Regions from separate parts of the Homo sapiens genome. Here regions 1 and 2 are each linked to region 3. The links come from fine-mapping of genetic effects on gene expression. A gene starts in region 3. Each other region holds a variant in brackets. All regions are shown on one strand. Distances are between the middles of the regions. Region 1 overlaps CNR2 (cannabinoid receptor 2). Region 2 holds the start of LOC105376860 (a long non-coding RNA gene). Region 3 holds the start of HMGCL (3-hydroxy-3-methylglutaryl-CoA lyase).

Region 1 (10,977 bases), 53 kb after region 3:
AACCAACAGATGAGGAGCACAGCCAACACTAGCCCTAGGGTCTTGGCCAACCTCACATCCAGCCTCATTCGGGCCATTCCTGGCACCTGCCTGTCCTGGTGGCCAGACAAGCTGGCCACATGCTGATGGGCCTTCCAGAGAACATGCCCATAGGTGTAGATGATTCCGGAAAAGAGGAAGGCGATGAACAGGAGCCAGCTCAGCAGGTAGTCATTGGGGATCAGTGGGAAAAGCTCAGAGCAGGGCCTGGGACAGCAAGTCCATCCCATGAGGGGCAGGTAGGAGACTAGTGCTGAGAGGACCCACATGATGCCCAGGGTCACCAGTGCCCTTCCACGGGTGAGCAGAGCTTTGTAGGAAGGTGGATAGCGCAGGCAGAGGTATCGGTCAATGGCGGTCAGCAGGAGGCTACCCACAGAGGCTGTGAAGGTCATAGTCACGCTGCCAATCTTCAGCAGGAAGACAGCCTTGGAATCCACACCATGGAAAACATGGAAATTCACAAAGCTGCATGCAAAGACCACACTGGCCAGGAAGTCAGCCCCAGCCAAGCTGCCAATGAACAGGTATGAGGGCTTCCGGCGGAGTTGGTGGGAGGACAGGATCAGATAGAGCACAGCCACGTTCTCCAGGGCACTTAGCAGGCCCAGAAGAGTGCACAACACAGCAACAGCTGTCTTCTGGGGACCACTCAGGATCATGTAATCCTTCATAGGGTTGGAATCCAAGCCATCCTTGGAGCCATTGGCTATCTCTGTCACCCAGCATTCCTCCATGGGGTGGGCCCTTCAGATTCCACTGAGCTTGTCTAGAAGGCTTTGCTGCAGTACAATGAGAAGAAGAAAATAATCTTTTTCAGTAAGCACAAGAATGACCTCACCTGATAACTGACTGTAGCCAAAACTGCTACCTGTATGGATGGATTCTATGTGGGAAAATCAGTTTCTGTTTTGTTTGCCTGTATTTTGCCCTTTCTCCATCCAAGCAGGAAGCCAGATCTGTCCTGGCTGCCTCAGGGGAGGTACGTGGGAATGCAACAAGCAGAAGTGACTTGTGAGATTTTTGGCCTTCCATTTTCCAAAAGACTAATCCTAAGACTTCCTTTTGAAGCAAGGGAAATCCCAAAAGGTCAAAACCAAGAGGAAATCAAAACCAAGAAGAAATGGAATCTAGAGTGATAAGGTTGAGGGTTTTTTTGTTTGTTTTACATTTTGTTTTGTTAATTTGCCAATTTCGGCAAGTAAAGTACTGAAGTTTTAACAACTATTTGGGGATGGGATTTATGAATTTGGCTTAACATCAAGTGATGGGAAGAGAAAGTACAGAAGATTAAACAATTTATTTTATTTTAATTTTTATTTATTTATTTATTTATTTATTTTTGAGACAAAGTCTTGCTCTGTTGCCCAGGCTGGAGTGCAGTGGTGTGATCTCGGCTCACTGTAACCTCTGCCTCCCAGGCACAAGAGATTCTCCTGCCTCAGCCTCCCAAGTAGCTGGGACTACAGGCACCCACCACACCTGGCTAATTTTTGTACTTTTAGTAGAGACCGGGTTTCACCATGTTGGCCAGCTGGTCTCGAACTCCTGATCTGAGGTGATCCACCCACCTCAGCCTCCTAAAGTGCTGGAATTACAGGCATGAGCCACTGCGCCTGGCCAAAACATTTTATACTAGATAAAATATAGGAGTCCAGTTAAATTTGAATGTTGGCTGGGCACGGTGGTTCACGCCTGTAATCCCAACACTTGGGGAGGCTAAGGAAGGCGGATCATGAGGTCAGGAGATCGAGAACATCCTGGTTAACATGGTGAAACCCCGTCTCTACTAAAAATACAAAAAATTAGCTGGGCGTGATGGCACGTGCCTGTAGTCCCAGCTACTTGGGATGCTGAGGCAGGAGAATTGCTTGAACCCAGGAGGCAGAGGTTGCAGTGAGCCGAGACTGTGCCATTGCACTCCAGCCTGGGCGACAGAGCAAGACTCTGTCTCAAAAAAAAAAAAAAAAAAAAGATGAATGTCAATAAGAAGTAACTTTTTAGTATATGTCACAAATATTGAAGAAAAAACCCTCAGGAACCTAGATATTGTACGGTTTATTATTAGACATTATTAGAAAGCAAACTAAACATTTATTTGGAGCGATTCACTTTCTAAACAGGTTGTATAGGAATACCACATATAAAGGCCCGTGAAATTTGAGTTCACAATGCAAAATGCATAAGGAAACATGAGCAAGAGTCAGCAGAAACGTCAGACAGTAGAATTCCACTTTCAATAACTTCATATAATTCTTGGGTATACCTTAAAAAAAAAGTCTGATATAAAAACAATAAAGAATTAAAAACATGAGTACAGAATGAGAGATTGTTTCTGGGTAGATCTGAAAAAGATTCAAGTAGAATTTCTGGAAGTCAAAAATAAAATCATTGAAAAAAGAGATCCTTAAGGGATGAGTTAAAGAGCAAAACAGAACAACTGAAAAGCATTGATCTAGAACGTAGATCTGGTGGCCGGGCACGGTGGCTCACGCCTGTAATCCCAGCACTTTGGGAGGTCAAGGTGGGTGGATCATGAGGTCAGGAGATTGAGACCATCCTGGCTAACACGGTGAAACCTCGTCTCTACTAAAAATACAAAAAATTAGCTGGGCATGGTGGCAGGTGCCTGTAGTCTCAGCTACTCAGGAGGCTGAGGCAGGAGAATGGCGTGAACCCGGGAGGCGGAGCTTGCAGTGAGCCGAGAGCCGAGATGGCGCCACTGCACTCCAGCCTGGGCAACAGAGCAAGACTCCATCTCAAAAAAAATAAAAAGAAAAAAAAAGAAAGTAGATCTGGGGCTGGGCACAGTGGCTCACGCCTGTAATCCCAACATTTTGGGAGGCTGAAGTGATGGATCACCTGAGGTCAGGAGTTCAAGACTAGCCTGGCTAACATGATGAAACCCTGTCTCTACTAAAAATACAAAAATTAGCCGGGCACGATGGTGGACACCTGTAATGCCAGCTACTCAGGAGGCTGAGGCAGGAGAATCGCTTGAACCCCGGATGCAAAGATTGCAGTGAGCTGAGATCGCACCACTGCACAGCAGCCTGGGCGATAAGAGTGAAACTCCATCTCAAAAAAAAAAAAAAGAATGTAGCTCTGAAGAAATTTCTCACAATGCAGAACAAAGAGATAAAGTGATGGAAAACAAGAAAGAGAAGTTAAGAGTTATGAAGGATTGAGTAAAAATGTTTATATCTCAGAGGAGTGTTAGAGAGGATAAACAGAGAAAACTGGTGGTGGGCAATAGTCAAAGAGGTAGTAGTAAAGAATTATCCATCCAGCCTGGGCAACATGGGAAAACCCCATCTCTACAAAAAAATACAAAAATTAGCTGGATGGTGGTGCATGCCTATTGTCTCAGCTACTTGGGAGGCTGAGGTGGGAGGATCACTTGAGCCCAGGGAGGCCAAGGCTTCAGTGAGCCATGATCATGCCATTGCACTGCAGCCTGGGCAACAGAATGAGACCCTGCCTCAACAACAAAAAAGAATTATTCAGGATCCATGAAAAATAAGACTATTCAGATTTGGAAATCACAGGGAACCCAAAGCAGAATTTTTTTTTTTTTGAGACAGAGTTCCCAGGTTCAAGTGATTCTCCAGCTTCAGCCTCCTGACATAGCTGAGACTACAGGTGTGCACCACCATGCCCAGCTAATTTTTGTATTTTTAGTAGAAAAGGGGTTTTCCATGTTGGCCAGGCTGGGCTTGAACTCCTGGCCTCAGGTGATATGCCCACCTCGGCCTCCCAAAGTGCTGGGATTATAGGCGTGAGCCACCACACCCAGCCCCAAGTAGAATTTTTAAAAACACATTCCATGTTCATGTATATCATATAGCATACATATCAGAATACCAAAGACAAAGAAAAATATAAGGCAGTAAGAATGAAAAGCCAAATTACCTGTAAGAGAACCATAATTAATTTTAAGAGCAGATTTCTGATCAGCAACAATAGAAGCCAAAAAATAAAGAAAAAACTGTCAGTCTAGAATTTTATACCCAGCTAAACTATCATTCAAGAATGAGGTCTAAAAAATTCAAAGAAAATTGTTCACTAACAGACTTTCACTGAAGGAACATCTAAAGAATGTGCATTTTAGAAGGAAATTCAACCCAAAGGGAAGAAAAGAACGGCAAGAAAGAATAGTGAGCAAGTAAGTTGACAAATATGAGTAAAGAAAAGCAAATGGCTTTATAAAACAACAATGATAATAGTGAGTAATTTATGCCCATCTTTACTAAAAACACAAAAATTAGCCAGGCGTGGTGGTGTGCACCTGTAGTCCCAGCTACTCAGGAGACTGAGGCAGGAGAATTGCTTGAACCTGGGAGGCAGAGGTTGCAGTGAGCCGAGATCATGCCACTGCACTCCAGCCTGGGTGACAGAGTGAGACTCTGTTTCAAAAAACAAAACAAAACAAACAAACAAAACCAAAGTGGAGACTGGGCACAGTGGCTCATGCCTGAAATCCTGGCACTTTGGGAGTCCAAGGCAGGAGGATTGCTTGAGCCCAGGAGTTCAAGACCAGCCTAAGCAACATGGTGAAACCCATCTCTACAAGACATAAAAATTTAGCCAGGCGTGGTGACATATGCCTGTATTCCCATTTACCTGGGAGGCTGAGGTCAAAGGATTACTTCAGCCCAGGTGGTCCAGTGTGCAGTGATCTATGATTGTGCCACCACACTCCAGTGTGGGTGACAGAATGAGACCTTGTTTCAAACAAAAACAAAAACAAAGTAGAAATAAAATTGTGAATGACAAAAATGCAAGACAAGAAAGAGATGAATAGAGTTAAAGCTTTATCTAGGAAGTGGGTAAAGACATTGATTAATTTTAGGCTTAAAAAAAAAACCAGGCATCATCTCTTATCTGGTTTATTGCAATAGCTTCCTAACTGGGCCCCCTGCTTTTAATCAGGCCCATTTCTAATCTAGTTTCAACATAGCAGTCAGGGTGATCCTTTAAAAATATAGGATCTTGTCATTTCTCTGTCCCAAACCCTGCATAGCTCCCTAGTCCACTATGTAAAAGCCAAAGTCCTTAGTGTTATGGTCCCTTCTACCATGATTCCCTTGGTGACCCAGCTTTAGCCACATTGGCTTCTTAATCAGTCTTCTCTTCAGCCACAGGTCCTTTGCACTGGCTGTTCCCTTTTCCTGGATCACCTTTCCCTCAACATTTACTTGGCTTGCTCTCACCTTGTTTAAGTCTTTGCCCAGATCTTACTTTTTCAATGACACCTACCCTGACTACCCCATGTAATACCCTAACTCATCCCAACTTCCAACTCTTTTTTTTTTGAGACGGAGTCTCACTCTGTCACCTAGGCTGGAGTGCAGTGGCACAATCTCGGCTCACTGCAACCTCCGCCTCCCAGGTTGAAGCCTTTCTCTTGCCTCAGCCTCCCGAGTAGCTGGGACTACAGGCGCATACTACCATGCCCGGCTAAGTTTTCATATTTTTAGTAGAGACGGGGTTTCACCGTGTTAGTCAGGCTGGTCTTGATCTGACCTCGTGATCTGCCCGCCTTAGCCTCCCAAAGTGCTGGGATTACAGGCATGAGCCACTGCACCTAGCCCAACCTCCAGCTCTTTTGCTTTTCTTTACACTGACCTCGTCTTTATTTTTTCCATACCACTATCACCTTCTAATATATAAAATGTATTATTTTTAGTTTTTATTTTTTTGAGATGGAGTTTCACTCTTGTCACCCAGGCTGGAGTGCAATGGCGCGATCTTGGCTCATTGCAACCTCCGCCTCCAGGGTTCAAGTGATT[C/T]TCCTGCTTCAGCTTCCTGAGTAGCTGGGATTACAGGTGCCTGCCACCAGGCATGGCTTTTTTTAATATATATATTTTTAGTAGAGATGGCGTTTCACCATGTTGGCCAGGCTGGTCTCAAACTCCTGACCTCACGTAAAGTGCTGGGATCACAGATGTGAGCCACCACACCCAGCCTATAGTTTATATATGTAATTTAAATATAAATTAACATATTACATATAATTTAAATATAATTATAAATATAAATTAATATAAAATGATCTGTTGTATAAAATTGTATTCTGACCACATAAAATTTATTTAGAAATTAATAATTAAGGCTGGGCGTGGTGGCTTACACCTGTAATCCCAGCACTTTGGGAGACCAAGGCGGGCAGATCACCTGAGGTCAAGAGTTAGAGACCAGCCTGGCCAACATGGTGAAACTCCATCTCTACTAAAAATACAAAAATCAGCTGGGCATGGTGGCAGGCACCTGTAATCCCAGCTACTCGGGAGGCTGAGGCAGGAGAATCGCTTGAACCCAGGAGGCGGAGTTTGCAGTGAGCCAAAATCACACCATTGCACTCCAGCCTGGGTGACAGAGTGAGACTCCGTCTCAAAAAATATATGTAATAATAATAATTTTAAAAAATTACTGGTTGGGCATGGTGGCTCATGCCTATAATCCCAACACTTTGAGAGGCCGAGGCGGGCAGATCACATGAGGCCAGGAGTTTGAGACCAGCCTGTCTCTAATAAACCCCATCTCTACTAAAAATACAAAAATTAACCAGGCCTGGTGGTGCACACCTGTAATCCCAGCTACTGAGGTGGTTGAGGCAGGAGAATCGTTTGAACCTAGGAGGCGGAGGCTGCAATGAGCATCACTACACTCCAGCCTGGGCAACAGAGTGAAACCCTGTCTCAAAAAAAGAAAAAAAAAATTGCTAGGCCGGGCATGGTGGCTCACACCTGTAATCCCAGCCCTTTGGAGGCCGAGGCGGGCGGATCACCTGAGGTAGGGAGTTCGAGATCAGCCTGACCAACGTGAAGAAACCTCGTCTCTACTAAAAATACAAAAAATTAGCTGGGCATGGTGGTGCCTGCCTGTGATTCCAGCTAGTCGGGAGGCTGAGGCAGGAGAATCGCTTGAACTTGGGAAGGCGGAGGTTTCGGTGAGCCAAGATCGTGCCATTGCACTCCAGCCTGGGCAACGAGAGCGAAACTTTGTCTTTAAAAAAAAAAATTACTAACAAAGTTCATAGGTATGGATCTTTTTCTTGAGATGGAGTCTCACTGTTGTGCCCAGGCTGGAGTGCAGTGGAGCAGTCTTGGCTCACTGCAACCTCCACCTCCCAGGTTCAAGCGATTCTCCTGCCTCAGCCTCCCAAGTAGCTGGGATTACAGGTGCCTGCCACCACGACCAGCTAATTTTTTGTATTTTTAGTAGAGATGGGGTTTCACCATACTGGCCAGGCTGGTCTCGAACTCTTGACCTCAGGTTATCTGCCCACCTTGGCCTTCCAAAGTGCTGGGATTATAGGCATGAGCTACCGTGCCTGGCCTCAGGTATGGATCTTTAAAAACACACTTCGGGATCCCTTCGTAGTTCATAAGCGTGATGACTGGTTTTCACGCTCACGTGTGAGATGTTCCTCAAACCTATGATGACATTGTCACGTTACCAGTCTGATGTGTGAAAAAAGAAAAAAAGACACACTTTTGAACAATTCCTGGGTCAAAAATTCATAAAGGCGATTAGAAGATACTTGGCATTGAATGACTACGAAATTGTGAGACATTAAAATGTGTGAGATTCATCTGAGTCGTATGCAAAGGGAAATTTACAGCTCTAAATGCTGATACTATCAGGTGCGGTGGCTTACACCTGTAATCCCAGCACTTTGGGAGGCCAAGGCGGGTGGATCACCTGAGGTCAGGAGTTTCAGACTAGCCTAGCCAACATGGTGAAACCCCGCCTCTACTAAAAATACAAAAAAAAAAAAAAAAAAAATTAGCCCGCATGATGGCTGGTGCCTATAATCCCAGCTACTTGGGAGGCAGAGGCAGGAGAATCGCTTGAACCTGGGAGGCGGAGGTTTCAGTGAACCAAGATTGTGCCACTGCACTCCAGCCTGGACAACAGAGCGAGACTCTGTTCTCAATAAATAAATTAATAATAAACGCTCATACTACAAGATAAAAAAGCCTCATGAGCTCATCATGCAACTCATGAAATTAGAAGAAGGGCCATGGCATACATTCAAAGAAAGCAGAAGACAGAAATAATAAGAGCAGAAATTAATGACATGGCAAAACTATAGGGAAGAGAAAGAACTGACAAAGTCAAAGCTGGCTGTTTGAAAAGATTATAAAATAGATGACCACAGGCAAGATTACTAAAGGAAAAAGGAGAGCAACCACAATGAAGAAAAATACAGGGCATGAGAGAGAAATGGTCAATAATCCTTTGAAAAGATGCGTAACCTCAATAGTAGACAGAGAAATGTGTTTCACTCCCATCAGATCGGTAAAAAAGTAAGGCTGACAATACTGAGTGCTGGAGAAGGCGTGGAGCCAAAAGAACTCTCATTGCGATGGGGGTGTAAGTTGACACAGACACTTTGAAGAGCAGCTTGGCAAAATCTGGTGAAGTTGACGATACATCAATTGCAGTCCCGGGAATACGTTCTGGAGGAACTCCTGCAGGTGCGTCCAGGGAGGCATGTACAAGAATGTTCTCTTTGGCATTTTTGAAATAGAAGAACAATTCTAAATGTCCATCAACTGGAAAATGGATAAATAAGTTGTAATACAGCCATACGAAGGAATACCACAAAGTGGTGAAAACGTGCCAACAATGATGAATCTTAAAAACAGTGTTAGGCCGGGCGTGGTAGCTCATGCTTGTAATCCTAGCACTTTGGGAGGCCGAAACAGGCGAATTGCCTGAGCTCAGGAGCTCAAGACCAGCCTTGGCAACACGGTGAAACCCTGTCTCTACTAAAATACAAAAAATTAGCCAGGCATGGTGGTGTGCGCCTGTAGTCCCACCTACTTGGGAGGCTGAGGCAGGAGAATCGCTTGAACCCGGGAGGCGGAGGTTGCAGTGAGCTGAGATTGCACCACTGCACTCCAGTCTGGGTGACAGAGCAAGACTCCATCTCCAAAAAACAAACAAACAACAAAAAAACAAAAACAAAAAAACCCCCCACAGTGTTGGGCCAATCCCTTGTAAAGCCTAATCCTTAAGGAGAGTTTAGAGGATTTATGAGTAGATAAAAGTGAAGAGAACTTGCAGGCAGGAATATAACATTTTAGAGAATCTGGAGGGATTTTCCCCAGACTGGAGTTGAAAACCGAGCCTTGCCTGAGGCAAAAGGAAAAATCTGTGCCTCTCTATAGACATCTTTATGTCTTTTTTTGTTTTTGTTTTTTTTGAGACAGAGTCTCACTCTGTCGCCCAGGCTGGAGTGCAGTGGCACAATCTCGGCTCACTGCAAACTCTGCCTCCCGAGTTAAAGCGATTCTTGTGCCTCAGCCTCCCGAGTAGCTGGGATTACAGGCACCTGCCACCATGCCTGGCTAATTTTTGTATTTTTAGTAGAGACGGGGTTGTTGGTCAGGCTGGTCTCGAACTCCTGGCTTCAAGTGATCTGCGCGCCTTGGCCTCCCAAAGTGCTGGGATTCCAGGCTGGAGTGTAGTGGCGCGATCTCGGCTCACTGCAGCCTCTGCCTCCTGGGTTCAACCGATTCTCATGCCTCAGCCTCCCAAGTAGCTGGGATTACAGGCACACACCACCACACCTAGCTAATTTTTGTATTTTTAGCAGAGACGGGGTTTCACCATGTTGGCCAGGCTGGTATCGAACTCCTGACCTCAAATGATCCACCCGATTCAGCCTCCCAAAGTGCTGGGATTACAAGTGTGAGCCACCATGCCCAGCTGACCATCTAGTTTAATCCCCGCAACTCTATGATATTAGAGTTATGCTTATTGCTATTTCACAGATAATAAAAGGTCGGCAATGTTAAAGCATTGGGCTGAGGCCACACGGCTGGTCGAGGTCAGAACTAAGGCTTTATTATTTCTGGACCTTTAGTGGCTCAGCACAATGCTTGCTGCATAGCAGGTGCTCAAAAACAATTTTTTTTTTTTTTGAGATAGAGTCTCACTCTGTCGCCCAGGCTGGAGTGCAGTGGCATGATCTCAACTCACTGCAACCTCCACCTTCCGAGTTCAAGCGGTTCTCCGGCCTCAGCCTCCCGAGTAGCTGGGATCACAGGCGTCTGCCACTGTGCCTGGCTAATTTTTTGTGTTTTTAGTAGAGGTGGGGTTTCACCATCTTGGCCATGCTGGTCTTGAACTCCTGACCTCGTGATCCACCCACCTCGGCCTCCCAAAATGCTGGGGTTACAGGCATGAGCCACCATGCCCGGCCTCAAAAACTATTAACTGAGGCTGGGTACAGTGGCTCACACCAGTAATCACGGAGTTCTGGGAGGTTGAAATGGGAGGATCCCTTGAGCCCGGGAGTTGGAGGCTGCAGTGAGCTATGGTCATGCTACTGCACTCCAGCCTGGTTGACAGAGAAAGACCACCATCTCCTTAAAAAAAAAAAAAAGCTATTAATTAATGAAATGCACTTGGATGGAAAGGGGCTGTCTTGAATACTGTAGACCCCAAGTATGAGTGTGAGGGAGATGGGAACAAACCATGTAGGTTTAAATCCTACCCAGTGACCTCTTTCAAAATACCTAATGCTTTGGTCTTCTCATTTCTCATCTGTAAAATGGGGTTTTCTGAGTATTTAAATAAATTACTATCATACATGGAAGTGTTCATTGTTGCCACTGTTGTGATTATTATTATTCTTAGGCACATCTTCAAATGGGGTTAGTTCACCTACTCTGTGAGGTTGCTAAGAATGATATGCCTGGGCCGGGCGCGGCGGCTCACACCTGTAATCCCAGCACTCTGGGAGGCTGAAGCAGGTGGATCACGAGATCAGGAGTTTGAGACCAGCTCAGCCAACATGGTGAAACACTGTCTCTACTAAAACTACAAAAATTGACCAGGCGTGGTGGCGTGCGCCTGTAATCCCAGCTACTCAGGAAGCTGAGGCAGGAGAATCACTTGAACCCAGGAGGCGGAGGTTGC
Region 2 (5,243 bases), 33 kb before region 3:
GAGGAACCCCGGGTCACAGGTGAACGATCCCATTGTGGGGAGCTGCCCTCAGGGGTCAGAGATGGAAGGTGAGGCCAGTTGGGAGGGGTGGGCAGGCACTTGAGGCAGGTAGTGGAAGCTTCCGGCGAGTTTGGAGGACGCCGAGGATGGGGAGGGGCCAGCCAGCCTGACATTCTTTTGTGTGTTTGGGAGTCCCAGAGCGTGGTCAAGCCAGGGCTCGTTTGCAGTCAGTGGCAGCAGCAGCAGGTAGCTCCGTTTAGGGGGGGCGTGGAGCACCAGTTTGGGGGTGGGTGGAGTTCTTACGCTTTCTGGGGACATGGGCAGCCCCCTGGGGGTCTGGGAATGGATGGGCCAGAAACTGCTGTGAAGGCTGGATGGGGGCTGGGTGGGGGGAGGTTGAGATGGGGGTTGGAGGCGGCACTGAGTAGGGGATGGAAGCTCCTTTCCCTGGCACTTTTCTCTCCATTTCCCATAGGGCCCGGAGTTGGGGAGGCAGGGACCCAGGGATGATTGGAGAGGAGGGGGAAGGCACTCACCCCTGAGGAGTTAGAGGGGGAATGAAGCAGGCGTGCCGCTGCCTCCCCTCTGCCCCCTGCCCTACAGTCCCTATGCCCTGCCTCTGCCTGTCTCCAGCAAGCTCAGGTCCTGTGGTTGGGCCAGAACCAGAGACACATGTTCTGGGCCACTAGGGAGGCTGTCTCTGCCTTTCAGCCCTGGAACTGAGGCAGACTTCTTCTCCTGTGCCCTGGGACTTCTTGCTTGACTATTCTTTGTGCCCAGGACAGAACCTGGGTGCTGTGTGGGGCTGATGGCCTGGTGGCCTCTTGGGCCAGGAGTGTGTCCTGTGCCTGGTTTTGCTCTTGACCGCCGCCCCGATGTATGCAGGCCCCCGCCGTGGAGCCGTGTGGTGTATGTGTGGTAACACCATGTCTGTGCCCCTGCTCACCGATGCTGCCACCGTGTCTGGAGCTGAGCGGGAAACGGCCGCGGTAAGGGTCCCCTTTCACCCACGGCCAGACACTGTGGGAGCAGCTGGAGGACCGGCTGGAGGGGGTGTGGGAAAATGGAGGTGGCAGTGATGAGCAGGGAGTATCCTGAGGCCAGCAGGCTCGGGGTAGTAACCTGTTTGGCTGCTACCTGGGTTCCCCCAGGTCCTTGGGGGTGGGGGAGGGGTGGGCAGAAGTTGGAGGACCTAGGGGAAGCCTTCCTGTCTCCCCATTTCCCATCCTTTTCCAGGTTATTTTTTTACATGGACTTGGAGACACAGGGTAAGTGACTGAGGAGGGGTGCTCCTTAAGGAGGGGTCCTGGCCCAGCAGCGGACTGGAGAGGCCTTCTCTTCCTACCACATCGGAGCCTTTTCTCCCGTCCCTCCTACAGGCACAGCTGGGCTGACGCCCTCTCCACCATCCGGCTCCCTCACGTCAAGTACATCTGTCCCCATGCGTGAGTGTCACCCCAGCAAGGGAGGGGCTGAGGCTGGGGATCATCTGGGGGTGGTCCTGTCATCCCAGGCCTGTTCTCTCCTGTCAGTTGCATCCTGGGGCTTGGGCTCAGGGCAGTCAGAAGTGGCATTTTCAGCCTGAGCTCCTGTGGAGCCCCCAGGAGTGGGGTCCAGCACCAGCCCCCAGCCCTAGGGCCTCCTAGACCTGAGCTCTCCTAGAACCCACACCTCCCTTTGCCCCTTCCCCAAGTACTCACCGACTACCTGGGACCCCGTCACACCAAGCGCTGGGCTCTGCTTCTCCATTACTGGCGCTTTGCCCCAACCACAGCCTCCAGCCCCACGTGGCAGGTTGCCTGGCAACACCTTAAACACAGGCCCTGCCTGCTGGGAGGGGCCACCAGGGGCGGCGCGGCCCCACTCCGGGCTCTGAGCTCTGGCCTCCTCATTCCTCCTGAGCATGATGGGCCCTCTGGCTCTCTTTCCCCAGGCCTAGGATCCCTGTGACCCTCAACATGAAGATGGTGATGCCCTCCTGGTGAGTTTGGGAGTGGGGGTGGGCAGGGGGACGAGGACACTTGGGCTGAGGGAGCCACAGGGGGCTGGCTGGGGTTTTCTATAGCTGCCAGTGCCTCTACTCCCAAGGTTTGACCTGATGGGGCTGAGTCCAGATGCCCCAGAGGACGAGGCTGGCATCAAGAAGGCAGCAGAGAACAGTAAGACCCCAGCCCCTCCTCCACATCCTCCTTCCCCTGCCCCCCAGGAAAGCGCTGGGCGGTTCCTCAGCCTAGCTCCCTTATTGGGCCCCTTGGCAGCTTCCCTCTACCCACTCATGCCCCCTCCCCCAGTCAAGGCCTTGATTGAGCATGAAATGAAGAACGGGATCCCTGCCAATCGAATCGTCCTGGGAGGCTTTTCACAGGTGAGGGGAGAGGGGTGGGGGGGTAGGGGGTAGGGGTGGCCGGTGAGTGAGCTGTGCCCTCATGACCCCTCTCTCTCCTCCCTCCAGGGCGGGGCCCTGTCCCTCTACACGGCCCTCACCTGCCCCCACCCTCTGGCTGGCATCGTGGCGTTGAGCTGCTGGCTGCCTCTGCACCGGGCCTTCCCCCAGGTGAATGTCCCCACTGACCCCCCCGCCCTTTGTGTCTGCATCCTCGTGGCTTGGGGACTGCTGCAGCACTAGCTTTGCCCTGAGTCCTGTCCGGCCTCCAGGCAGCTAATGGCAGTGCCAAGGACCTGGCCATACTCCAGTGCCATGGGGAGCTGGACCCCATGGTGCCCGTACGGTTTGGGGCCCTGACGGCTGAGAAGCTCCGGTCTGTTGTCACACCTGCCAGGGTCCAGTTCAAGACATACCCGGGTGTCATGCACAGCTCCTGTCCTCAGGTCAGTGGGGGGACCATTTCCCACTCCCACTTCTCTGCCTCCAGCCAGGTGCCTCTCGTGATCCCCTCTTAATCCCCTCAGGAGATGGCAGCTGTGAAGGAATTTCTTGAGAAGCTGCTGCCTCCTGTCTAACTAGTCGCTGGCCCCAGTGCAGTACCCCAGCTCATGGGGGACTCAGCAAGCAAGCGTGGCACCATCTTGGATCTGAGCCGGTCGAGCCCCTGTCCCCACCCTTCCTGACCTGTCCTTTTCCCACAGGCCTCTGGGGGCAGGTGGCAAGGCCTGGCCGGGCCTTCCTTCCTGGCCTTAGCCACCTGGCTCTGTCTGCAGCAGGGGCAGGCTGCTTTCTTATCCATTTCCCTGGAGGCGGGCCCCCCTGGCAGCAGTATTGGAGGGGCTACAGGCAGCTGGAGAAAGGGGCCCAGCCGCTGACCCACTCACTCAGGACCTCACTCACTAGCCCCGCTTTGGGCCCCCTCCTGTGACCTCAGGGTTTGGCCCATGGGGCCC[C/T]CCCAGGCCCCTGCCCCAACTGATTCTGCCCAGATAATCGTGTCTCCTGCCTCCACTCAGCTGCTTCTCAGTCATGAATGTGGCCATGGCCCCGGGGTCCCCTTGCTGCTGTGGGCTCCCTGTCCCTGGGCAGGAGTGCTGGTGAGGAGGTGGAGCCTTTTGAGGGGGGCCTTCCCTCAGCTGTTTCCCCACACTGGGGGGCTGGGCCCTGCCTCCCCGTTACCCTCCTTCCCTGCAGGCCTGGAGCCTGTAGGGCTGGACTGAGGTTCAGGTCTCCCCCCAGCTGTCTCACCCCCACTTTGTCCCCACTCTAGAGCAGGGAGGCAGTGGGGGAGGAGTTGTGTCTCGTCTTCTGTCTCCATGTGGTTTTTGGGTGTTTTTCTTGTTGTGTCCTGGATTCCGATAAAATTAAAGAAATTGCTTCCTCAACGCTCAGGCCTGGCTGATTCTATTCCAGGGGTGGATAGTGACCATCTGTGAGAACCTGCCCCAGTGTAAGAAAACTTGTTTTTATTTTTAAATACTTTGGAAAGCTCTTTCAGAGCAATATAAATGAGTGCCTGGGAGGAGGAGGTTTTGTGCCAGAGCCTTGCCCCCTCACTCACTCTTGGGGGTCCTGATGAACTCTTGGACCCTGTGGAAGATAAGAGTTAGAGACCTCGGCCTCCTGGTCAGTGGAGCCCTTGGCCTCATGCCTGGTGGGCTAAGCGGGCCCAGCTGGGGTTTGAGGTAGGGGAGGCCTTGGCTTGGCCCCAGCAGCTCCAGGGCCCTGAGTTCCTGCCAGAGGCTGGAGAGCAGGCAGCTGCTGCTTTTCCTGGTCCTTGGTAGGGGAGGGTCCTCAGGCTTGCGTGCCAAAGCCTGAAGGATTCTGCTTCTGCCAGCGCCAGAGATCCTCACCTGCAACACGGCGAGGTGTGTGCTCAGGGCCCACGGTGGAATGCAGAGCCTCCCCCACCCCACAGCCCGCCCTGGGTGGGCATGCCCAGATCTGATTTAGCCCCTCCCTGGCCCCTAACTGCAGGGGTCAGGCCAGCACTCACACATCCTGTCCAGCCCTAAGGCTGCTGTCCACCCCAGCTCCTCTTGGGCCAGGCTGGGGTTGGCGTAACAGGCTGCCACATCACCTTCCCGCCGTGCCACCACCTTGTACGGGATCTGCAAGACAGGAGGTAGTTGGAGCTTAGCTGAGCCGGCCCTGGCCCAGCTGCTGGCCAGGTCTTTAAGAAGCAGAAGTGCAGAGCAGCGGCTGGCCCGCAGGCACCGGGTGCTAGGCAGGCTGAGGAGACTGGGCAGTGCCAGGTACCCTCCAGAGAGGTGAGTGGGAAGGGCCAAAGCTGCTCTGTTGCTGAGAGCTGGGTGGGGTGAGGTGGGTGAGGTGGGTGGGGCGGGGGGGCCTACCTTCTTCCCAGAGGCCTTCTCCATAGCCTGGACCATCTGCAGCACTGAATAGCCTGTGCCCGTGCCCAGGTTGTAGATCTGGCCCACGGAGAACAGGGTTTATGGAGCGGGCTGGACTGACCACGCCTCTGGGCCGCTCTGCCTGGATCTGGTCCCTCCCCTCCCTCACTTCTCCCTTCTCTTCCTACCCGGCAGCCACACTGTTCTTTCAGCTTCCTTAAGGCTGCAATGTGGCCCTTGGCCAGATCCACGACATGGATGTAATCCCGGACACCTGCAGAGAAGGGAGTGTGTTGGATGGGGAGTCTGTTCCCCCTGACTCTCCTTCCTGGCTCCCACTCCTAGGTCCCCCTGGTCCTAGGCTCACCTGTGCCATCCTCTGTGTCATAGTCATTGCCAAAGACATTCAGGGCCTCCCGTCGCCCGATCGCCACCTGGAGGTGGAGATCAGGTCAGTTCGTCCCAGATCCCAGGCACCAGCTTTAACCCCAGGGCCACTCCTCTGT
Region 3 (10,977 bases):
AAAATTAGCCAGGTGTGGTGGAATGGACATGTAGTCCCAGCTACTCAAGAGGCTGAGGTGGGAGAATCGCTTGAGCCCAGAAGGTTGAGCCTGCAGTGAGCTATGACTGTGCCACTACACTCCAGCCTGGGCAACAGAGCGAGACCCTGTCTCAAAAAAAAAAATTAAATGACTCTATATGTCACTTGATGCTTTCCAATTAAGAAAAGAAAAGACTGTATGAGTTGCCTCCTCTGACCTCCTGGAATCATCACTCGCCCCTACTGTCCACTCCCAACCTCCACCCAACAGGTTGCTAAGCTCCCTGCCTTCTCTTCCCTCTGCCCCAGGGTTCCTCATCTGGCTTTTTTTAAAAAAACTGGCTGTTCTTACATCTCTCTCTCATCTTTCAGTTGCAGAGAGGCTTCCTCTGACCACCCTTTGCAAAGCTGCCATTCCTCCCACCCCCATTATTTTCGCTATTGCAGAGCTATAATTATTTCCTTCAAAGCACGATAAAGAATGCCTACTCAATGTCTCTTCCAGTAGAACATAAGCTCTTTGAGGGACCTTGTCTGTCTCAACTCCACTTCATCCCTAGTGTTTGGCACCGTGTTTGGTACAAAGTAGCCACTCTTTAAAGTTATTAAAATAACACATAAACCATGAAGGACACAGCTGTCCCAGAAGAGAGCAATTACTGAGTGTGGGGAGGAGTAGTCAGTCCTGGACTTTTCGGGGTATGGGCGAGATGCAGGAGGGCTCTCTTCTGTTACAGTCATAGGCTGGGTGATGACAAGCATGGGTCTAAGGGGAGGTGACACCCCCAGTAGCTGAAGACAGTTTTTACAAAATGCCCTGAGTCTCCTCTATATAAAGTCAGCTCAAAATCTTAGTCTTCCCTATCAAGTAACACAATACTTTTTTTTTCCTCTTTCCTCTACCTGTCTTGATACTGTAACTTTTCAAATCAACTTTGTTTTACAGATTTAATCTGGATAAATATACTACAACGAGGCAAAGCGGAAGGCACACTGTGTGATCCGCTAAGGATCTCAACCCCCTGAAGTCCCCCAGGAATTCCCTGCTAGGAAGCAGCTGGAACATGTACAACTCACCTGACTGGCCTTGTTTTAGCCAACAAGCTTTCTTAGAGACTAAGGCGATGAGCCATTGAATTTCATGACGTCAACAGGCTAAGTTGGAAGGTCCCTGCAACTTGAATCTCCCTCCAACAGGGATGTTCAGCCTCTGCTAGTATATCACCCTAAAACTATCTCACTGGAACATAAGTTTCATGAGACAGGGACTTTGTTTTATTCAATGCTGTATTTCTAAGGCCCTGGGACATAATAGGGGCTCGATAAATAACAGTTGAGTGTTGCTGAAATAATCTAAAACCTGCTTCAGGCCAAGCGTGGTGGCTCACGCCTGTAATCCCAGCACTTTGGGAGGCCGAGGTGGGCAGATCACCTGAGGTCAGAAGTTCGAGACCAGCCTAGCCAACATGGTGAAGCCCTATCTCTACTAAAAACACATAAATTAGCTAGGCATGGCAGCAGGTGCCTGCAATCCCAGCTACTCGGGAGGCTGAGGCAGGAGAATTGCTTGAACCCAGGAGGAGGAGGTTGCAGTGAGCTGAGATCGTGCCATTGTACTCCAGCCTGGGGTACAAGAGCGAGACTTCTTCATCTCAAAAAAAAAAAAAAAAAAAAAAGCTTCTAAAACCTGCTTCCAAGCTGCTTTTATTAGAACATTATAAACTCAATTCCACTTCCTTCCTTCCCCGTAACAGCTCTTCACATAATAATTCAGTTTTTAAACACTTAATATTTGCCAGGCACATACAAGAGCCATTTACATATTTATTTATTTATTTATTTATTTGAGATACAGTCTCATTCTGTCTCCAGGCTGGAGAGCAGTGGCGCGATCTTGGCTCACTGCAACCTTCACCTCCCAGGTTCAAGTGATTCTCCTGCCTCAGCCTCCCGAGTAGCTGGGACTACAGGTGCGCACCACCACACCTGGCTAATTTTTTGTATTTTAGTAGAGACAGGATTTCACCAGGTTGGCCAGGCTGGTCCCGAACTCCCGACCTCAAGTGATCCACCCACCTCAGCCTCCCAAAGTGCTAGGATTATAGGCATGAGCCACCACGCCTGGTGAGCCATTTACATATTAACCCATACTGTCCTCTCAACAATCTTATCAGGTAGGAACTATCATCATCCCCATTTTACTGTAAGAAATCTAAGGCCCCACTTGGGAGGCTGAGGCAGAAGAATCGCTTGAACCTGGGAGGCAGAGGTTGCAGTGAGCTGAGATTGAGCCACTGCACTCCAGTCTGGGTGACAGATGACAGAGCAAGACACCGTCTCAGGAAAAAAAAAAAGAAAGAAAAGAAAAGAAATCTGAGACCCAAAGAGATTAAGTAATCTTCCCGAGGTGACATGGGGAGTTACTCACTGAGGCAATATCTAAACCTGGCAGTGTGGCTCTAGAGCACAAGCTCCTAACCTCTGGGCCACTGTTGCCTCTTTACCACCGTTCGTTCGGTCCACAGTCTTCTCCTGGTTAAACATCCCGTTCCTCCTCTGTAAAGCTCTGCTCAGAGAGGGTCCCCCTAACCACACAAGTACTGTGCCACAGTGTCCTGAGGTATGGTGTACCTGCATCAACACCAACAGCGAATACTGACTAAACCCAGTGTTAAACTACAGGCCAGGGACTATTATTATCCCAACTCCGTAGGTGAAGAAACTAAGCCTCAGAAAGGTTACCCAAAAATCACAATTAGAAAGTGACAGAGCTTGGACTTGAACCCATATCTAGGCCTAATACTAATACTGGTTCCTATGCTTGGAACCCCATGGAGGGCCATCTCATTACACCAAATATTTCTTAAAAGCTTATTAATATCTACTATTGCGTTTAACTTTCCAAGTTGGAATTGCCATCTTCATTTTACACATGAGCAGGTGGTGCAGGTGAATGGCCAAGTAAAGATATTAACGTGGCTTTCTGAGAGGGACCCAGTGCCAGGAGTGTATTTTTCCCTCTATACAGTTATAACTCCTTCTCAACTCCCTAAGGTAAAAATACCACCACCGACTGATCACTTATTAGGAGCCAGAACACTGCCAGATGTGTTACTTACATTTTCTCTAATTTCCAAAACAACCCCAAGGGAATGTTGTCCGTTTTACAGACGAAAGAGCTGAGGTTTAGAGAAAGTAAATAACTATGTCATTAAGTCTAGAAAGTGGCAGAACTATTGGGACACCCTAGCTTCAGCTTTTATTTTTTCTGCTCCATACAGCTACGTCTCCCACACTTTTTCTGCGCTGAGAATGGGAGAGGGGAAAACATCAGGATCGAACAGGATCAAAGTGCAATTCCAAGGGAATCACAGCTTGGCTCCAATCAACGCAAGTCCCGCTCGGTAGGCTGGGATAGTTCCCCAAGCATCTCTAAAAGCAACAACAGTTGGAAATGGAGACGAAGGAAATGGAAGCGTGTTCTTGATTTTCACTAATGAAGAGTTGGAGAGGTCTGAAGTTCAATTAGAGGGAGAAAGGGGCCAGGGTCATCGGAAAGGGCCCTGGGCGGGGAATCAGGGCACCTAGGATGGCGTCCCAGGTCTCCATGACCCAGACAAGTCACTCCACCTCTCCGGACCTCAGTTTTCCCATCCCCTTCAAAGGATTTGAGGGGAAAAGGGAGGGTCCAGGACTCCAACGCCCTCCCGACTCTGGCCTGAGAGCTGTCCGGCCTCGCCTCTAAGAGAGCAGTCACCACGGGCCAAGCCCCCAACCCTGACAGTCAGAGTGCCTGCAGGGCCGCCGCCTCGGCGGCTCGGGGCACTTACAGCCCGGAGGGACGCCAAGCCCACCAGTCGCCGCGGAAGCGCCTTCCTCATTGCTGCCATCTTGGCCCAGAATCCCCCGCGGCAGTCCAGCTGGGCCCCGCGTGACCGATGGCTCGTCTGGTGGGCGCGGCCCCGCCCCCGCCCCTCCGCCGTGACTTCCGAAGCTGGCTCCACCCCCAGCCTCTCTCCGTTTTGATTCCGAGCGCCTCTTCCATGCCAGGCCAAGTGAGACGCTAGGAATATAAAGATGAACAGAATCAGCCTGGACACCATGTAATCCTAGCACTTTGGGAGACCGAGGCGGGTAGATCACCTGAGGTCAGGAATTCGAGACCAGCCTGGCTAACATGGCGAAACCCCCGTCTCTCCAAAAAATCCAAAAAAAAAAAAAAAAAAAAAAAAAAAAAAAAAAAGCCGGGCGTGGTGGTGGGCGCCTGTAATCCCAGCTACTTGGGAAGCTGAGGCAGGAGAATTGTTTGAACCCGGGAGGCGAGGTTGCAGCGAGCGGAGATCGTGCCACTGCACTCCAGCCTGGGCGACACAGTGAGAGCCTGTCCAAAACAAAAAACCCAAAACCAAACAAACAAAAACATGAAAAGAAATTAACCAAATTCTGTGGCTTCTTGTGTTTAGAGTGTGGGAGGTGTGAGGAGACACATATTAATAGTTACACAAACAGTTGTGTCATTTCTAACTTGCACTATAAGAAGCAACGATTTGCTACTCACTGTTCCGAGTTCTTAGCACGGATTAACTCACGCATCACGATCTTCAGGATTCAAACACAGGCAGGCAGCTCCAGAGAGGGGGCATCCTTAGATTTCATACCTTAAAAAAATGATTAAGATTTATCTAGGTGTACTTTCTGAAGGGCTGAAAAAAAAAAAAATCTATCCAGGTGAAGAGGATACAAGAAAAACTTTCCAGACGGTGTAGCATTCGCAATGGCCCTGAGGCAAAGAAAATGCTGAGAACACTGTTTTTCTCTCTTTTGTTTTGTTGGTTTGTTTTGTTTGTTTGAGATGGAGTCTCACTCTGTCACCCAGGTTGGAGTGCAGTGGCGCGATTTCGGCTCACTGCAACCTCCGCCTCCCGAGTTCAAGAGAGTCTCGTGCCTCAGTCTCCCGAGTAGCTGGGATTACAGGTGTGCACCACCACGCCTGGCTAATTTTAGTGTTTTTAGTAGAAACGAGGTTTCACCGTGTTGGCCAGGCTGGTCTCAAATTCCTGACCTCAGGTGATCCGCCCGCCTTGGCCTCCCAAAATGCTGGGATTACAGGCGAGAGCCACCGCCCCCGGCCAGAGCACTGTTTTCAAACTGTATGTTGTACCCCACTAATTGGTCACAGTATCAATTTAGTGGGTACAAACTTTATTTAAAACAAAGAACTAGAATTTTATCTATCTATCATCTATCTATCTATCTATCTATCTATCTATCTATCTATCCATCTATATTTATTTATTAAGACGAAGTCTCACTGTGTTGCCCAGGCTGGAGTGCGGTGGCGTGATCTCGGCTCACTGCAACCTCTGACCCCGGGGTTCAAGCGATTCTCCTGCCTCAGCCTCCGGAGTAGCTGGGATTACAAGTGCCCATCACCGTGCCCAGATAATGTTTGTATTTTTAGTAGAGATGGAGGATTTCACCATGTTGGCCTGGGCTGAAGCAATCCACCCTCCTCGGCCTCCCAAAGTGCTGGGATTACAGGCGTGAGCCACTGTGCCAGGCCCCAAATATAAAATATTGCTCTATAAAATAATAAAAGAGTGATCTAAAAAAATAAAAATAATAATAAAAGAGAAAAGGCTGGGTGCAGTGGCTTACACCAGTAATTCCAGCACTTTGGGAGGTCGAGGTGGGAGGATCACTTGAGGTCAGAACTTGAAGACCACTCTGGCCAATAAAGTGAGACCCCAAGTCTATTCAATAAATAAGAAAAATAGCCAGGTGTGGTGGCTCATGCCTGTAATCCCAACACTTTGGGAGGCCGAGGTGGGCGGATCACTTGAGGTCAGGAGTTCGAGACCAGCCTGACCAACATGGTGAAACCCCGTCTCTACTAAAAATACAAAAATTAGCTGGGCATGGTGGTGCGTGCCTGTAATCCCAGCTACTCAGGAGGCTGAGACAGGAGAATCACTTGAACCTGGGAGGCGGAGGTTGCAGTGAGCCGAGATCACGCCACTGCACTTCAGCCTGAGTGACAGAACGAGTCTCTGTCTAAAAACTAAATAAATAATAATAATAAATAAGAAAAATATTAGAATACAATGTATAAAAGTAGTAAAGCCAAGTACTGCTTTGCAAAACTTTTGTTCATTATATATATCAACAAGGTTGCAATGTAAAATAAATTTCTTACTGTGGGCTGCACTTGGAATTGTTTGAAAACACCTTTTTAGCAAGATGAAAAGAAGGCTGGAATGATTGGAGAGCGGGGAGGGAGTAGGAAGGGGACTTCCTACTAAGATTGGAGAGTTTGGCAGGAACTGTCACAGGGCTTTGGTGAACACACTAATACCAGCTGTCCTAATAGCAGTGATTTTGAATGATTTAGAGTAGGGAAATCTGATTGAATTTGCATTTTTAAATAGTCACAGGGGCTACTGGTTGGATGTTAATTGTGTGTCTGGTATTCTCAGGGAAGGCAGTGAAGGCACTTTCCTTGACTTTAAGGAGCTCAGATTTTATCTAGGGAAAAAACAAGACATGATAATTATTCTGTTAGGCTTCAGCAGCACTGGAAATTTTCTCTATCATGACACTGGGAGCATTACTCACAGAATTCTCAAACCTGTGTTAGAGGGCTGCACTCGGCCCAAACATACTGGCATGGTATTATTTAAAATATGTCTTTCAAGACTTGTACACTGAAAATTATAAACCATTGGTGAAAAAAATTAAAGAAGACATAGTGGTAGGACATCCCATGTTCATGAATTGGAAGACTTAATACTGTTTTTTAGTTTGTTTGCTTTTGCTTTGAATTTTTTAATTTTTAATTTATTTTTATTGTTATTTATTTTATTGTTTGTTTACTTATTTATTTATTTTTGAGACAGAGTCTCACTCTGTCACCCAGGCTGGAGTGCAGAGGCGCAATCTCGACTCACTGCAACCTCCGCCTCCCGGGTTCAAGCGATTCTCCTGCCTCAGGTTCCCGAGTAGCTGGGATTACAGGCACCTGCCACTACGCCCAGCTAATTTTTGTATTTTTAGTACAGACGGGGTTTCACCATGTTGGCCAGGCTGGTCTCAAACTCCTGACCTCAAGTCATCCGCTCTCCTCGGCCTCCCAAAGTGCTGGAATTACAGGCGTGAGCCACCACACCCAGCCTTTTTTTTTTTTTTTTAGATGGGGTCTCACTCATTCTCTTGCCCAGGCTGGAGTGTAATAGTGCAATCATAGCTCACTGTAGCCTCAGCCTCCTGCACTCAAGCCATCCTCCCACCTCAGCCTCCTGAGTAGCCGGGACCACTGGTGCATGCACCATCACAACCAGCTAAGTTTTAAATTTTTTGGCCGACAATGGTCTTGCCATGTTGCCCAGGCTGGTCTTGAACTCCTGGGCTCAAGTGATCTTTCTTGTTTTGGTGCCCCAAAGTGTTGAGATTAAAGATGTGAGTCCCAGCACCCAGCCAAGAAGACTTAATATTGTTAAAATGTCAGGGAGGTGGAAGCTGCAGTGAGCTGTGATTGCACCACTGCACTCCAACCTAGGTGACAGTGAGACCCTGTCTGAAAAAATATAAAAAATAAAAATAAAAATTACCATATGATCCAGGAATTTCACTTCTAGGAATATACCCAAAATAATTGAAAACATGGACTTAAACATATGTACATATACCAATAGTGTTGCTATGTTCCTCATAAATACATATTCTTGTATATACAGAATATAAATATATTTATTTATATATTTATATATAGAATGTATAGAATATAAATTTATTTATAAATATACATATATATTTATATTCTGTATATACAAGAATATATATTTATGAGCAACATAGCAACATTATTGGTATGTGAATATCTGTTTAATTCCTTGTTTGCAATTATTTTCAGTATATTTCTAGAAGTGAAATTCCTGGATCATATGGTAATGTTTGTTTTTATTTTTGTTTTATTTATTTATTTTTTTGAGACTGAGTCTCACTCTATCACCCTGGCTGCAGTGCAGTGGTGCAATCTCAGCTCGCTGCAACCTCCGCCTCCTGGGTTCAAGCAATTTTCATGCTTCAGCCTCCCGAGAAGCTGGGATTACAGGCATACACCACCACACCTGGCCAATTTTTGTATTTTTAGTAGAGATGGGGTTTCACCATGTTGGTCAGGGTGGTCTCGAACTGCTGACCTCAAGTGATCCATCCACCTTGGCCTCCCAAAGTGCTGGGATTACAGGTGTGAGCCACCGCGCCCAGCCTAATTTTTTTTTTTTTTTTGAGACAGGGTCTTACTGTGTCACCTAGGCTGGAGTGCAGTGGTGCAATCACAGCTCACTGCAGCCTCCACCTCCCTGGGCTCAGGTGACCCTCCCACCTCAGCCTCCTGAGTAGCTTTTATGTATATATAAATTTACATATATAATTTTAAATATATTAATATATAATATATACTTATAAATTATTATATAACAAATTATATAATAAATATATTATATTTTATTTTATTTATAATTATATATTTTTATATAGTATATTTATATATAATATACTTATTATATATGCATATGTGTGTGTGTGTGTATATATATATATATATATATATATATATATATATATATATAAAAACTCTCCTATTGGTTCTGTTTCTCTGGAGAACCCTGTCTAACACAATGAGCAATAATGTTGCTCATAGTAACATTATCTGTGATGGCCAAAAGGCGTACAGAACGCACATGTGCATTAACAGATAAATGGATGAACAAAATGTGCTATATTGTATACCTACAATAGTTACTCATTCTTGAAAAGATATACAATTCTGACACATGTTGCAACATGGATAAACCTTAAAAATATTCTGCTAAGCCAGACACAAAAGGGCAAATTTCATGATTCCACTTATGTGGGTGTGATGGTTAATTTTATGTGTCAACTTGACTAGGCCACAGGGTATCCAAATATTTGACTACACATTATTTCCGGGTGTGTCTGTGAGGGCATTTCTGAATGAGGTTAGCATTTGAATCAGTAAAGGGAGTAAAGCAGATTACTCCCTCAATGTGGGGGGCATCATCCAATTCTTCGAAGGCCTGAATAGAACAAAAAGGTGGGGAAGGAAGAATTCTCTCTTCTACATTCAGACTGGGACTTACACTACACCATTGGTTCCTCTCATTCTCAGGCCCCTGGGCTTCAACTGGAGCTACACCTCACTGGCTTTTTTTGGTCTCCAGCTTGCTGACAGCAGATCATATTTCATACATATACATATCTTTTTTTTTTTTTTTTTTAAGATAGAGTTTTGCTCTTGTTGCCCAGGCTGGAGTGCAGTGGCGCGATCTTGGCTCACTGCAACCTCCACGGGTCAAGCGATTCTCCCGCCTCAGCCTACCGAGTAGCTGGGACTACAGGCACCCAACAACACGCCTGGCTAATTTTTGCATTTTTTTTTAATAGAGACGGGGTTTCACCATGTTGGCCAGGCTGGTCTTGAACTCCTAACCTCAGGTGCTCCAGCAGCCTCCAAAAGTGTTGGGATTACAGGCGTGAGCCACTGGGTCCGGCCTATATATCATCTTTTATTGGTTTTGTTTCTCTGGAGAATCCTAACTATTACAATGAGGACTTTATTATAGTCAAATTCATAGAGAAAGAAAGTTGAATAGTAGTTATTGGGGGCTGGGAGTGGAAAGAAATTGGGAGTTATTGTTTAATGGGTACAGAATTTCAGTTTGGGATATGAAGGAGTTCTGGATAGTGGAGATGGTTGTATAACAATGTGAATGTACTTAATGGCACTGAATTAAAATGGTAAACTTTATGCTATATATATTTTAAACAATAAAAAAAAATAAGTAACTGCACAAGAAAAAAAGACTTAGGCAAGGCATACCCTTGCCAGCTCCCCAGTCCCTACTACTCCTAATTGTCACAGACACGAGGCTTCTCTCCTTCCTCTGTTTGCCCCCCTAAAAGCCCTTGTTGGCAAATTCTCAAAAGTAAATAACTTACAAGCACAGCTCTGAGGCAAATGTCTAAACTAAAGGGCAGAGACTTTAACTGGTTGTTGAATGTGGTGTCTCCAATACCAGGCACATTTGGTGGCATGAAGTAAATACTGAAAGAGTAACACTAGCAACTGTTACAGACTTTGCTCAGGGTCACCCTTAGTTGGAATCTTATTTTAACCAAGATGTTTCCTTTTTTGCATTGTAACCCACCCTCAATTACAAAGCTTACAATAATTATTAACAATAGCCCCTACCATTTATTAAGTATATTTTCTGTATTGGTTGTGATATATAGTAACTTTTCATGAGTAATCAGACTCTGCAACATAAATGTTACTCTTTCCATCTGAGAAATGAGGAAACGGAGGCTTAAGAGACATTAAATAACTTTTCTAAGATCATGTATGGTAGGTAAGTTCAGACCCAAATCTGACTCTAGAGAATGCTTTCTTTGCTACATGATAACACTATTCCCTCTTTCCTCTTCCTTTCTCTCCAAATTACTAAAAGAGATGGCTGCTGTGATTAAGGCACAAGTTGGTGCTAGGTGCTAAGACCGCAGTAGTAAATAAGATTCACCACAATTCTGTGCACCTTTCTCAGACCTTCAGATTTTATGGTAATAGTTTTTTTTCCCAGGACTTTTTTTTTTCTTTTTAATTTTTTTTTTTTTAATGAGACGGAGTCTTGCTCTGTCGCCAGGCAGGAATGCAGTGGCGTGATCTTGGCTCACTGCAACCACCACCTCCTGGGTTCAAGAAATTCTCCTGTCTCAGCCTCCCCAATAGCTGGGACTACAGGTGCCCACCACCACACCTGGCTAATTTTTGTAGAGACGGGGTTTCACCATATTGGTCAGGCTGGTGGTCTCAAACTCCTGACCTCAGGTGATCCACCCGCCTCGGCCTCCCAAAGTGCTGAAATTACAGGCATGAGCC

The links. PIP is the estimated chance that this variant, and not a neighbour inherited with it, causes the effect.
Region 1: its variant is the best candidate, but not a certain one, in a credible set for the expression of HMGCL in whole blood (TOPMed, PIP 0.87).
Region 2: its variant is the best candidate, but not a certain one, in a credible set for the expression of HMGCL in whole blood (TOPMed, PIP 0.62).

What each region holds. Positions count from the first base shown.
Region 1 is chr1:23,874,842-23,885,818 of GRCh38, forward strand. CNR2 (cannabinoid receptor 2) reads right to left here. Exons shown (of 2, transcript NM_001841.3): 2 at 1-821. The coding sequence starts at 776. It also overlaps the pseudogene LOC124904841. Among named protein-coding and RNA genes, the nearest start is that of FUCA1, 12 kb to the left of the region's middle. The variant C/T (reference allele first, on the strand shown) is at 5,832.
Region 2 is chr1:23,791,772-23,797,014 of GRCh38, forward strand. It overlaps LYPLA2 (lysophospholipase 2), which reads left to right. Exons shown (of 10, transcript NM_007260.3): 2 at 886-989; 3 at 1,237-1,268; 4 at 1,380-1,445; 5 at 1,934-1,981; 6 at 2,089-2,159; 7 at 2,292-2,365; 8 at 2,453-2,554; 9 at 2,656-2,829; 10 at 2,911-3,768. The coding sequence starts at 912. The coding sequence ends at 2,961. It overlaps GALE (UDP-galactose-4-epimerase), which reads right to left. Exons shown (of 12, transcript NM_001008216.2): 8 at 5,105-5,171; 9 at 4,926-5,011; 10 at 4,738-4,815; 11 at 4,380-4,494; 12 at 3,828-4,236. The coding sequence ends at 4,178. It overlaps LOC105376860 (a long non-coding RNA gene), which reads right to left and starts at 1,761. Exons shown (of 2, transcript XR_947067.3): 1 at 1,701-1,761. The variant C/T (reference allele first, on the strand shown) is at 3,340.
Region 3 is chr1:23,821,506-23,832,482 of GRCh38, forward strand. HMGCL (3-hydroxy-3-methylglutaryl-CoA lyase) reads right to left here and starts at 3,924. Exons shown (of 9, transcript NM_000191.3): 1 at 3,851-3,924. The coding sequence starts at 3,910. LOC105376861 (a long non-coding RNA gene) reads right to left here. Exons shown (of 3, transcript XR_947068.2): 2 at 4,579-4,678; 3 at 4,035-4,083. RefSeq lists an enhancer at 3,925-4,793.